2 separate regions of the Homo sapiens genome follow, and region 1 is reported to be linked to region 2. The links are microRNA targets in miRTarBase. Many come from high-throughput screens and were not tested one by one. Region 2 holds a microRNA gene; the other region holds the end of a gene's coding sequence.
Evidence for each region. Region 2 holds the annotated microRNA hsa-miR-6511b-5p (CUGCAGGCAGAAGUGGGGCUGACA, at 1,155-1,178, shown strand). A microRNA usually pairs through its seed, bases 2 to 8, with sites in the 3' UTR of a target mRNA and lowers its output. Matches are read on the target gene's strand: a 7mer-m8 pairs with bases 2 to 8, a 7mer-A1 pairs with bases 2 to 7 and ends in A, and an 8mer does both.

Region 1: miRTarBase lists RAB9A as a target of hsa-miR-6511b-5p. The part of its 3' UTR that is shown has no 7-base or 8-base seed match.

What each region holds. Positions count from the first base shown.
Region 1 is chrX:13,709,073-13,712,072 of GRCh38, reverse strand. It overlaps RAB9A (RAB9A, member RAS oncogene family), which reads right to left. Exons shown (of 3, transcript NM_004251.5): 3 at 1,569-3,000. The coding sequence ends at 2,721. Among named protein-coding and RNA genes, the nearest start is that of RAB9A, 21 kb to the right of the region's middle.
Region 2 is chr16:15,130,960-15,135,294 of GRCh38, reverse strand. It overlaps MIR6511B2 (microRNA 6511b-2), which reads left to right and starts at 1,150; the gene lies at 1,150-1,220. It also overlaps a transcript of PDXDC1 not described here, the pseudogene PKD1P6-NPIPP1 and the pseudogene PKD1P6.

The sequences.
Region 1 (3,000 bases), not on the chromosome of region 2:
CTAGGAGTAATTTCAGCAAACGTGTATTTTTTTGTATATAGTTGGCCCCTCCCTCAATGAGCATATCATCCAGAGGGCTGTGATGCAGGGCAGCCAAGAGCAGCAGGGTGATTGATTGAGAGCAGGAAGACTTGGCTCAGCTGCACAACAGTGGTACCCTGAAAATAGCCTTTTCTCCAGGCTGGTGAAGGTGAGGTAGGCACTAGTAACACACTTGTGAGTATATTACTAAAGTTAAATGCCAAATTTCATGTGTGACTGAGTCTTCAAAGGAGCTGGAAGGGAAGTGGAGCATTGAGTGGGACCTCCAAGGTAGGCTGCACAGGAAAGCATTGCAGGTGTGAAGGTGTGAAGAGCACTTGGGCACATGGGTGGAACTGACAGCTGATTGATTGATAGATAGATAGGAGCTGATCATGAGGAAAGCTAAGCTGGCAAAGCTTGGATCTGGTAGGTGATGTTCCTTGAAGGTTCTGGAACACAAGAGCAATGGGGTGAAGTCAGTCTTAAAATCAGGCTCTCCTGAGCACATGTATGTTAGCACAAAGTTGGTTATCTGCTTTAGTGCTCCAAAAGTGATCCAGATAAAACGTACACCGAGTTTTGTCATCTTGCCATAGCCAGAAACTTACTAGGATGCTTCCTTTGGCATGGACATAGATCGTCTCAGTCTCTGCTCTGCCCATGCTATTACCCATGTGCTTTAATTTTTCAGTCACTTCAACACTTCCTGGTTGACAGTCCAGAGTTCCAGAAACCACTGACTCTCCAGACACCACCTTTCACTGGGTACCACACTGGTGTGTTTTTCTACTTAACAAACACTTCACTACTCTACAAGACACGGATATTGTGTGAGAACTTGCATGGTGGTGTCACAATATTAAAATGAAAAGTTTGTACAGAAATATAAAAAGGTTTTCTTCTAAGACAAGTAATAGTAGGAATGTTTTAACTTCAACTAGGAAACTTTCCCCAAGGGTGAAAAATAAAAACATTTAGTCCATTAATGAATTGTAATTTTGTATCTTCCACACAGCACATTGTAATTGTTACATCAGTTAACAAATGCAGGTTTGTCTGTTCTCCAGTTCAGTAGTTTGCTTTTTTTTTTTTTTTTTTTTTTTTTGAGGTGGAGTCTCACTGTCACCAGGCTGGAGTGCAGTGATGTGATCTCGGCTCACTGCAACCTCCACCTTCCGGGTTCAAGTGATTCTCCTGCGTCAGCCTTCCGAGAAGCTGGGACTACAGGCACGATGCCCAACTAATTTTTGTATTTTTAGTAGAGACCGGGTTCACCATGTTGTCAAGGATGGTGTCGACCTCTTGACCTCCAAAAGTGTTGGGATTGCAGGCGTGAGCCACCGCGCCTGGCCTTGCCTTTTTTCTTAAAACCGAACTGTATCTCTGCTGGGGGCAGTGGTTCACTCCCTACATGACAGTCAGCTCCTCTCACCCAGCATGTCCTTTGATATCCCCATCACTCCCCAGTTGAGGGTCTCATCCACACTCAGTCTAGGCTTTGGTTAGCCTCCATAGAATCAGATAGTCACCAACCACACAGCATATGAACTTCATCCACAAAAGACCACAATTTGCTTTATCAAGTCTGATCACTGCAACAAGTCTTTTTCTAACAAAAAATCTCCTTGAGAGCAAATCACTAAATGTTCAGTAATAGAGAAGACACTAAGTAAATACATTGCCGAATAAAGATGTCTTCGTTTACCCTCTCACAAAGTACAATCCTTCTTAGTATTTCTTCTGAGAGTGATAAAGTCAGCTTGTGTCTTGTGTTATAAAGGAATGTTTTAACTTCAATTAAGAAACTTTCCCCAAGGGTCAAGAAAGTAACAAAAATATTTAGTCCATTAATCGAATTGTAATTTTGTATCTTCCACACAGTACATTGTAATTATTACATCAGTTATCAAATGCACATTTGTCTGTTCTCCAAGTTCAGTAGTTAGCCTTTTTCTTAAAACTGAACTCTATCTATGGAAAGGCTTTCCATTCATAGACAACTTGAATTTAGCTGGATGTATTACAGACTGTATGAAGCAACTCTTGTACCACTGGGGGCCCACCCTCCGCCTGAGACTGTGGAACATGATTTATGGGGGTGGGGGTGCATGAATGGCACACAAATGATGAGTAATTACTAGTGAGAGTAATTCTAGTATGTAGAATGAAAACAGGAATGGTTAAATCATTTTGAAGAGAATGAAGAAGTAAATTAACAATGCATTGCAAATACATTAGATTTTAATCTTTAATATCTAACATTATTGCTTTAGGAAAGTATTTCCCTGAACCAAGAATACAATGCTAATTGCATAAAAACATACACATATAAAAAGTAGTTCTCCATTTTCCCAGGAAAAAATCCAAGTATAACTTCTAGAATAGTCAAGTTTCTTATTTTTATTATAATTAAAGTCTTGGTCATTTCATTTATTAGCTCTGCAACTTACATATTTAAATTAAAGAAACGTTATTAGACAACTGTTACAATTTATAAATGTAAGGTGCCATTATTGAGTAAATATATTCCTCCAAGAGTGGATGTGTCCCTTCTCCCACCAACTAATGAAGCAGCAACATTAGTTTAATTTTATTAGTAGATGATACACTGCTGCAAACGCTAATTCTCTTCTCCATCCCCATGTTGATTTTGTGTATATGTGTGAGTTGGTTAGAATGCATCAACAATCTAACAATCAACAGCAAGATGAGCTAGGCTTGGGCTTTCGGTGAAGATTGACTGTGTCTGTCTGAATCAAATGATCTGACCTATCCTCGGTAGCAAGAACTCTTCGAACCGCTTCCTCAAAGGCTGCTGCCACATTTGTGGCATCTTTTGCACTTGTTTCAAAATAAGGATAGTCGCCGTTGTCCCTGCACCAAGCTTGGGCTTCTTCTGTAGACACCTGCCGTTCGCTTATGTCAATCTTGTTACCCAGAATCACAAAAGGAAAGCTCTCAGGCTCTTTCACATCT
Region 2 (4,335 bases):
GCCACCAACCAGACGGTGGGTGCCGCCCGCCCCTCGGCCACTTGCCTTGGACAGCCCAACCTCCCTGCTCATCTACTGTTTTCCGTGTTTTAGTGCTGGTGGAGGCCGCGCGCTCTTCCCTCTCTGTTTCTGATGCAAATTCTACGTAACACGACAGCCTGCTTCAGCTTTGCTTCCTTCCAAACCTGCCACAGTTCCACATACAGTCTTCAAGCCACATATGCTCTAGTGACAAAAGCTACACAGTCCCCCAGCAATACCAACAGTGAGGAAGAGCCCCTTCCCACCCCAGAGGCAGCCACTGTCCCCAGCCCATGTCCCTGTTGCTGGATGTGGTGGGCCGGTTCTCACCCTCACGCTCCCCACTCTGGACCGGCCAGGAGGCTTGGTGACCCTGAGCCCGTGGTGGCTGCTCCTGCTGCTGTCAGGCGGGGCCTGCTGGTGCCCCAGAGTGGGTGTCTGTTCCCCAGTCCCTGCTTTCCTCAACGGGCCTGATTGGGGGTCTGCCCAGAGGGGTCGTCTGAGGGGAGGGTGTGGGAGCAGGTTCCATCCCGGCTCAGCCTCCTGACCCAGGCCCTGGCTAAGGGCTGCAGGAGTCTGTGAGTCAGGCCTACGTGGCAACTGCGGTCCTCACACCCCCACATACGTCTGTTCCCACACGCATCCCCCCAGGGGCCCTCAGTGAGCATTGCCTGCCTCCTGTCAGGGTCCAGCTGGCTCCAGTACACCAGAACGCACACCCCAGTGTCCTCTGCCCTGTGTATGCCCTTCCGCCGCCCAGGTTGGAAGGTGGCAAACCGGATGAGTATCCTGGGAGGGGGTGAGCTCACCGGCAGTGGCCAGGCCCCTGGGAAACCTGGAGTTTGGGAGCAGCATCCTCCACGGGTCCCCCAGACCTTCCAGCAGGCCAAATAGACCTGTGTTGGAGGTAACCCCACTCCCACGCCAGGTGCTGATCCGCAGTGGCCGGGTGCCCATTGTGTCCTTGGAGTGTGTGTCCTGCAAGGCACAGGCCGTGTACGAAGTGAGCCGCAGCTCCTACGTGTACCTGGAGGGCCGCTGCCTCAATTGCAGCAGCGGCTCCAAGCGAGGGGTGAGTGTTGAGCGGGGTGTGGGCGGGCTGGGGATGGGTCCCATGGCCGAGGGGACGGGGCCTGCAGGCAGAAGTGGGGCTGACAGGGCAGAGGGTTGCGCCCCCTCACCACCCCTTCTGCCTGCAGCGGTGGGCTGCACGTACGTTCAGCAACAAGACACTGGTGCTGGATGAGACCACCACATCCACGGGCAGCGCAGGCATGTGACTGGTGCTGCGGCGGGGCGTGCTGCGGGACGGCGAGGGATACACCTTCACGCTGACGGTGCTGGGCCGCTCTGGCGAGGAGGAGGGCTGCGCCTCCATCCCCCTGTCCCCCAACCGCCCGCCGCTGGGGGGCTCTTGCCGCCTCTTCCCACTGGGCGCTGTGCACGCCCTCACCACCAAGGTGCACTTCGAATGCACGGGTGAGTACAGGCCTGCTTAGGGGGAGCAGCGGGATCCCCCGACTGTGACGTCACGGAGCCCTCCCGTGATGCCATGGGGACCGTCCCTCAGGCTGGCATGACGCGGAGGATGCTGGCGCCCCGCTGGTGTACGCCCTGCTGCTGCAGCGCTGTCGCCAGGGCCACTGCGAGGAGTTCTGTGTCTACAAGGGCAGCCTCTCCGGCTACGGAGCCGTGCTGCCCCCGGGTTTCAGGCCACACTTCGAGGTGGGCCTGGCCGTGGTGGTGCAGGACCAGCTGGGAGCCGCTGTGGTCGCCCTCAACAGGTGAGCCAGGCCGTGGGAGGGCGCCCCCGAGACTGCCACCTGCTCACCACCCCCCTCTGCTCGTAGGTCTCTGGCCATCACCCTCCCAGAGCCCAACGGCAGCGCAATGGGGCTCACAGTCTGGCTGCACGGGCTCACCGCTAGTGTGCTCCCGGGGCTGCTGCGGCAGGCCGATCCCCAGCACGTCATCGAGTACTCGCTGGCCCTGGTCACCGTCCTGAACGAGGTGAGTGCAGCCTGGCAGGGGACCTCACATCTGCTGCATGCGTGCTGGGGACCAAGACCTGTACCCCTGCCTGGAGCTTTGCGGAGGGCTTATCCCGGGCCCCAGAGATAAATCCCAGTGACCCTGAAGCAGCACCCCGACGTTCCGCTCCCAGCAGCCACACCCACCGGGCCCTCTCCGGCGTCTGCTTTCCACAATGCAGCCCCCGCCCAGGAGGGCCCATGTGCTTACCCTGTTTTGCCCATGAAGAAACAGCTCAGTGTTGCGGGTCAATGCCCACATCACACAGCATCTAGCACGTAACTGCACCCCGGGAGTCGTGGGCATCTGCTGGCCTCCTGCCGGTCTCCTGCCCTGCTGACAGCTTGCTGTGCCGCCTGCCTGCCCCAGTACGAGCGGGCCCTGGACGTGGCGGCAGAGCCCAAGCACGAGCGGCAGCGCCGAGCCCAGATACGCAAGAACATCACGGAGACTCTGGTGTCCCTGAGGGTCCACACTGTGGATGACATCCAGCAGATCGCTGCTGCGCTGGCCCAGTGCATGGTAGGATGGCCCCACATGCTCACCCCGCCCCGCATGCCTGCCAGGGTACTGGGTTCAGCCCCCCAGGGCAGACGGGCAGCTTGGCCGAGGAGCTGAGCCTCCAGCCTGGGCTCCTTCATGCCATGGCGTTCCTCGGTCTCTGACCTGCTTCAGTAGCCTCAGCCTTTCTGCTGTCCTGTGTGAACGCAGGGTGCCTCTCGGGGGACCCAGGGTGTAAAGAGGGGCCCAGATGTGGGGAGGGACTAAGAAGATGCTGTTCTGTGCCTTCCACTCTCCCCTCCCCTCCCCCTTCCCTCCCCTAGCCCCTCCCCTGCCCCTTCCCTCCCCTAACCCCTCCCCTCCCCCTCCCTCCCCTTGCCCCTCCCCCCTCCCCTAGCCCCTGCCCCCTCCCCTCCCCTCCGCTAGCCCTTCTCCTCCTCCCCTCCCCTAGACCTTCCCCTCACTTCCTCCCGCTGAGCCCCTCCACTCCTCCCCCAGCCCCTCCCTCCCCTAGCCCCTCCCCTCCCCCTTCCTCCCCTCCCCCTTCCCATCCTTATCCCCCTCCCCCAATTCCCATTCTCCTCCCCCTCCCCCTTCCCTATTACCATCCCTTTTCTCCATCTCTCTCCCCTTTTCTCCATTTCCCCCCCGATCCTCCCCGTCCTTTTGTCCATTCCCCTCATCTTTCTTATCCCCCTTATCCTCCTTCCCCTCCCTTATCCCCTTATCCCCCTTCCCCTCCCTTATCCCCCTGCTCCTCCTCTTCTCCCCTTTCTCTTTTCTCTACCCTTTTCCTTCCTTTTTCCTCCCTCTCCCCATCATCCCCCTCATCTTCGTCCTCATCCCCATCCCCTTCCCCCTCCCCCCTCCACCACTCTCTCTCCAGCTTCCCCCTTTCTTCTGCCTGCACCTCGCTCTCTGCCCCCTCAGGTTCCCCCTTTCTCCCAGCCCCCACCCTCCGGCTCCCCCTTTTTGCCTGCCCCCACCCTCCCTCTGCCTCCCTGTCTCTGCACTGACCTCACGTCTGTCTGCAGGAGACCTCATCCACCTGGCCAGCTCAGACGTGCGGGCACCACAGCGCTCAGAGCTGGGAGCCGAGTCACCATCGCGGATGGTGGCGTCCCAGGCCTACAACCTGACCTCTGCCCTCATGCGCATCCTCACGCGCTCCCGCGTGCTCAACGAGGAGCCCCTGACACTGGCGGGCGAGGAGATCGTGGCCCAGGGCAAGCGCTCGGACCCGCGGAGCCTGCTGTGCTATGGCGGCGCCCCAGGGCCTGGCTGCCACTTCTCCATCCCCTAGGCTTTCAGCAGGGCCCCGGCTAACCTCAGTGACGTGGTGCAGCTCATCTTTCTGGTGGACTCCAATCCCTTTCCCTTTGGCTATATCAGCAACTACACCGTCTCCACCAAGGTGGCCTCGATGGCGTTCCAGACACAGGCCGGCGCCCAGATCCCCATCGAGCGGCTGGCCTCAGAGCGCGCCATCACCGTGAAGGTGCCCAACAACTCGGACTGGGCTGCCCGGGGCCACCGCAGCTCTGCCAACTCCGTTGTGGTCCAGCCCCAGGCCTCCGTCGGTGCTGTGGTCACCCTGGACAGCAGCAACCCTGCGGCCGTGCTGCATCTGCAGCTCAACTATACGCTGCTGGACGGTGCGTGCAGCGGGTGAGGCACACGCGGCCCCCTGGCCTTGTTCTTGGGGGGAAGGCGTTTCTCGTAGGGCTTCCATGGGTGTCTCTGGTGAAATTTGCTTTCTGTTTCATGGGCTGCTGGGGGCCT